2 separate regions of the Homo sapiens genome follow, and region 2 is linked to region 1. The links come from fine-mapping of genetic effects on gene expression. A gene starts in region 1. The other region holds a variant in brackets. All regions are shown on one strand. Distances are from middle to middle.

Evidence for each region. PIP is the estimated chance that this variant, and not a neighbour inherited with it, causes the effect.
Region 2: its variant is fine-mapped to the expression of ZNF778-DT in nucleus accumbens (GTEx, PIP above 0.99).

The regions. Positions count from the first base shown.
Region 1 is chr16:89,216,335-89,219,350 of GRCh38, forward strand. It overlaps ZNF778-DT (ZNF778 divergent transcript), which reads right to left and starts at 1,319. Exons shown (of 1, transcript NR_186410.1): 1 at 1-1,319. ZNF778 (zinc finger protein 778) reads left to right here and starts at 1,369. Exons shown (of 7, transcript NM_001201407.2): 1 at 1,369-1,576. RefSeq lists enhancers at 1-201, 1,151-1,200, 1,725-2,255, 2,256-2,785.
Region 2 is chr16:89,312,204-89,314,703 of GRCh38, forward strand. All of the region lies in intron 3 of ANKRD11 (ankyrin repeat domain containing 11), which reads right to left. Among named protein-coding and RNA genes, the nearest start is that of ZNF778, 96 kb to the left of the region's middle. RefSeq lists an enhancer at 652-1,446. The variant T/C (reference allele first, on the strand shown) is at 1,325.

The sequences.
Region 1 (3,016 bases):
TACTTCGTGAAATTGTGTCCAATCTCTGCTAGCCATAGATAAGATAAATCCTGGGGCTCTAAAGACTGCAAGCCGTTGCTGCCCTTCAGAGCTTTGTGACTCAGACACCTGTCAGGCTGCTGAGAAACGTGATCTAGTCACGTCAGCCCTCCCCCTGTCTGATCTCCTTCTTCTCTGGGAGTTCTCTGCGCGCCCCCCGCCCACGCTCATTTTTTTCTCTTTTCTGAGTAGTGACCCCCAATTCGAAGCCTGTGGGTAATCTCATGGTGCGTGAGACTCCCTCACCCTCCAACCTGTCAAAGCTTGTGCGCCACCGCCACCTCCTGGGCACATCTTGTTTCTTAATCAGCCACGAAATCACGTGAACACTTCACATGTGGTTTTGTTTTGTTTTTCACATTTAGACTCCTGATCCGTTTGGAGTTTATCCCTGTGAGATCCAGAATTAATTTCATCATTTCTCAGACGGCTAACCATTTGTCTTAGCACCTTTCATTATAAACTGCATGTTTGTTCCACCGCTCTGAAATTATGTTTATGAACCAAATTTCCATGTTACTGGGTTGATGTCTGGATATTCCATTTGTTTCCTGTTCATGTGTCACTAGCACACAGTTTTAATGACAGAGGCTGTTTTCGCATCTGTCGGGCATTGCGCTTTTGTTTGTCCGCGTCGTCTGCGTTATGAGACATTTGTTCCTCCATGTGAACTCCAGGATCAATATGCCTGGTTCCAAAAAAAAAACCTTTTCGTATTGTTACTGGAATCATGTGACATTTCTGAATGAACCTTGGGAGAACCCCTGGTATCAGTGCTATTTTGCAACGTAGTATAGGTGGTCTTGGCTCCTACGGTACATTAGAAAAGTAACAGAAACGCATATTTGAAGCGAAAAATAGATGAACATTTACAGAAAAAAAAAATACCACATTGAAAATGCAGTGGAATCAACTGTTAAAAGTTCGGCGTGATGTTCAGACAGATAAAAAGGAACGGGGCCAGTGACTCCCTGCAGAGATCGAGAGAAGACCGAGCACTCCCAGCACCCGCGGGCTTCTCGCTGTGACCGAACCGCGGGCCGCGCTCGCGACGAGCACTTCCTGGCTGTACCCGCCCAACCGCGCCCTCCTGGTCTGTTCCGGCTCCGCAGTTGCGTCCAGAGGCCTGATCCTTACGTCCGCCTGGTCCTCCGGGCCTGTCTCTGCCTCCAGCCCGGTTCCCAAGGGCGCCCCGGGGCCCTCCCGCACCCTCGCGGAAGAAACTACTACCTCCCCGCACCATAGGCCAAAGCTTCGGCCCGGAGGCTGGAGGCGGAAGTGACGCCAAAGACGCGCCGGCCCCTCTTCCGGCGCCGGCCCCGCCTCCGCCTGTCTTACAGCTGATCCGGTTCTTGCGGCGGTGCGTGCTGGCGCCGGAGAGTTCCGCGCGTGTCCTCGGGCTGTCCGCGGGGAAGCTGGTCCGGGAGTGGGCGCCCGCCCGCCTGCCTCGCGCCTTGCGCCCCCGGCACCGCTTCCAGAAGGGAAAGTCGCCGCCGCTCGCGGTAGACCCGGGCAGCGCTTCCATTCCGCGGAGCTGGTGAGAGAGGGGCCCTTTGCTTCCTTCACTTTGAACAGGGCGTGTTTCTGTGAGAATCTGGCTTCGGCTTTGACGTTTTTTATTTGTTTCTGGCACATTGTGTTGGGACCGAAGCGTAAGGTAGACCCCTGAGCGCCCCGGGCGTGCAGCTCCCTGTGAAAGTTAGCCCGTGGGGGCCAGCGGGAGCGCGCGTCCCTCGCCGCCGGGACTTCCAGGCCCGGCCCTCGGGGCGGGAGGGATGCGGCCGTTGTCCCGCTGGTCTTGGAGTAATCGAATCCACGGTGAACAGTGTGTTTCGACTAACTGTATTTTTTCTCACGTTTTGCTTTAGAAAATCTGAATCTAATAAAAATGTGAACATCTGCTACAAGGAATATCCACTGCAATCGTTTTACTCCTTTTTAGCTTTGGGCCATGTTTTCTCTCTCCCCCAATAAATAAACCTTACGGTGAATTATTATTTGAGTGTAAGTAAGTTGAAATTAAACTGCACACATGATACTTAACCTTTAAATACTTGGTAAAGCGTCTGTTAAGGGTAAGGACATTATCCTACTGAAACCACAATATTAGTATTTCATCTAAGAAAATTAAAATTAGGCCGGGCGCGGTGGCTCACGCCTGTAATCCCAGCACTTTGGGAGGCCGAGGCGGGTGGATCACGAGGTCAGGAGACCGACACCATCCTGGCTAACACGGTGAAACCCCATCTCTACTAAAAATACAAAAAATTAGCCGGGCGTGGTGGCGGGCTCCTGTAGTCCCAGCTACTCTGGAGGCTGAGGCAGGAGAATGGCGTGAACCCGGGAGGCGGAGCTTGCAGTGAGCCGAGATGGCGCCACTGCACTCCAGCCTGGGCGACAGAGCGAGACTCCGTCTCAAAAAATAATAATAATAATTAAAAATAATAAGGTCCGCTGGGCACAGTGGCTCACGCCTGTAATCCTAGCACTTTGGGAGGCCGAGGCGGGTGGATCATCTGAGGTCGGGAGTTCAAGACCAGCCTGACTAACATGGAGAAATCCCGTCTCTACTAAAAGTACAAAATTAGCCTTGCATGGTGGCGCATGCCTGTAATCCCAGCTAGTCGGGAGGCTGAGGCAGGAGAATCGCTTGAACCTGGGTGGCACAGGTTGCGGTGAGCCAAGATCGTGCCATTGCACTCCAGCCTGGGCGACAGAGCAAGACTCCGTCTCAAAAAAATAAAAAAATAAAAAAATAAGAAGGAGGTCATCCACTGTCTACTTTGTGTAATATCTAGGATTCTCAACATTTTTCCAACATTGCGCTGTTGGGTATTTTGGGGACTAAGAGCCCTTCAAGGTTTATCTGTTCCCATCGTTTATGTCTTTTCACCTAGAACAACCCCTGTGGTTTCTCTATCATATTGACTTTGGTGTTGTTTTCTCGTGATACGTTTAAATATTCCTCCATTTCTTG
Region 2 (2,500 bases), 96 kb after region 1:
TTCCACTTCTTAAACGTGATGTGAGAACCTGAGGAGCTCGGCGTTCACAGCATCAGGTAAGCCTCAGTGCAGACGGCATGTGGCAGAGCTGAGAATGCACAGAATGCAAATTCGCTGCTTCAGAGCTAAACCTCCAGTGGGAGGAGATGAGGACAGTGTGTTCTACAGAGAGGAATCACGCAGGGGAGGGGCGGGGCAGGGCGGAGGCAGCATGCAGGCATGTGAACTGGGTGGTGGGGGAAGCCCAACTGTCAGGTAAGCAGAAATGGTAGGAGCTGGCGGGCCACAGGCCGTGTGCTCTGAGCCCTAAGACTGGGAAGAGAAGCGGATCCAAGTCCAGCAAGCCCAGCAAGTCTGGCTTCCTCTGTGATGCTGCTCTATGTCCTTTTCTGCCTTAGTGAAAAGATGGACAGAAATCACCCTCTCCACGAGCCCATGTGGGCCCACAGCGGTCTCAGGGGTGTGTGAGCCCAGCTTCGCCCTCCTGTGCTCTCGCCATCAGACACGGCCTCCTGCTCCTCCCGAAGCATGCGGGGGAGTTCTGGGCTCTGTTCTGAGTACAGACCCCATGCCAGACTGGCTCGTGAAACCACAGCCTGAGGTGGGACACGCCGAGGCCCAGCCATGCGCCTCCCAGCTTCTCAGCTAAGGTCACTCTGGAATACTTATCTTGAGGGACGTAGCTCCCAGCTCCCCACCTGCAGCACTGACAAAGCTATCTTCGGGGAGGGGCCTCAGACCAGATGTGAGTCTGTAACTGGCACAGACTGGGGGGGTTTCTGCTGAGACTCGCTGGAGGGCTCACATGCTCAGTTCTCAACTGCAGCCTCCATGCCCATGGACGCCATCTCCAGCCTCTCGGCCTCCACACAGCTCGCCAGGTCTCAGTGGGGCTGTGAATGTGGGTTCCTAACAAGCTCCAGCAGCTCAGGTGACTGCTCGTCGGAGGACACACTTTGAGAACCACCAAGTGAAGCTCAGGGGGCTGTGAGGCTGCCTGTGCTCTGAGTGGCGTGCATGGAGCACAATGAGACAGGGTGACTGTGCCATGGGGTGGGGACGACAGGGGACCCATGGGGTGGGGACGACACTGTTCTCTGTAGCCCTGCACACCTTTGGATCAGAACACACTCAACGATGCAGACACCTGCTGGTTCTTCCCGAGGCAGCTCAGCGGTTCTGGGATTCCGTGGTCGGCAATGGTGAGAGACCGTCTGCAGAAGGGGCCCTTTCTCTGACACGCCTGCCACTGTGCTCACTGGTGCAGCCAAAGGGACACGCACAAGCCGTCAGGTCAGCGCGGCATCAGGATGCACTGCAGAGT[T/C]GTGGGCTCCATTTCCATCTTCCACGTATATGTCACTGAGATCACGATTCTTTTGGAAAAATCTAAAAATATATTGTTTTTGATAACATAAAGCTATATCTGGAGAAAAGGGAGTTTATGGTAGAAGACTGAGCAGAAACCATTTCAGCCTGTACCAGGAGAAGGCAGGTCAGATGTGTGCACCTGAGTTCTGGCACTTGGGGCTCACTTCCTCCCTAAGGAATACAGCCTCTTCTAACAGCAGCTGCAACCAGGAGTGCGTCTTCCCAGGCATTCTATTTCAAGCTACTGTTCAAGCTAAGAAAGCTCCACCAGGCCTGAGAGCTCCCTACTCCCTGTAATGCGTTTAAAATTTGTCTGCCTCCATGAGGAAAATGCCTGGCTTTACTGTGAGTAGTTGGAAAAACAAACAAACAAACAAAACAGGACAGGCTGGGTGTGGTAGTTCACGCCTGTGATGCGGAAGCTGAAGGATCACTTGAGCTCAGAAGCTTGAGACCAGCCTTGGCAACATGGTAAGATCTCGTCTCTACAAAAGATACAAAAATGAGCCGGGTGTAGCGGTCTGCTCCTGTGGTCCCAGCTGCAAGGGAGGCTGAAGTAGGAGGACTGCTTGAGCCTGGGGCAGTGGGGCAGGGTGGGGGGTTATGGAGGGTGCAGAAGTTGCAGTGAGCTGAGACTCTACCACTGCACTCCACCCTGGGTGACAGAGTCAGACCCTGTCTCAAAACAAACAAACAAACAACAACAACAAAAAACCACACATACAACTGAACCCATAACACAGCTACCTTACTGGAAAAGCCCAGAGTGAAATCCACACATCCCTCACAGCACACGTGTGAACAGAGCTCGCATCGACATTATCAGGCCAGTTCATCAAGTCTCTCTTCTCCTTAAACAAGAGAACAACTCAAAGCAGCTGAGCGCACACATCAGCGCTGGGGCTGCCGGCAAATCAGGACACCCTGCCTCCTGCGCCAACACGACCTGCTCTCTGTGGCTCTTCCGGCCTTTCTCGTCTCGTGCTACCCTGCCGAGACTGCCTTCCCTGCAAGTCCACTGACACAGGGCTCCACCACGCCCAGCCTGCTGGTGTGTCAAGCGGCTCAGAGAACCACCTCCTCAATAAGCATATCTGAGACCTGAGCCAGGAGAGCTCCCTCTTTCCTCCAC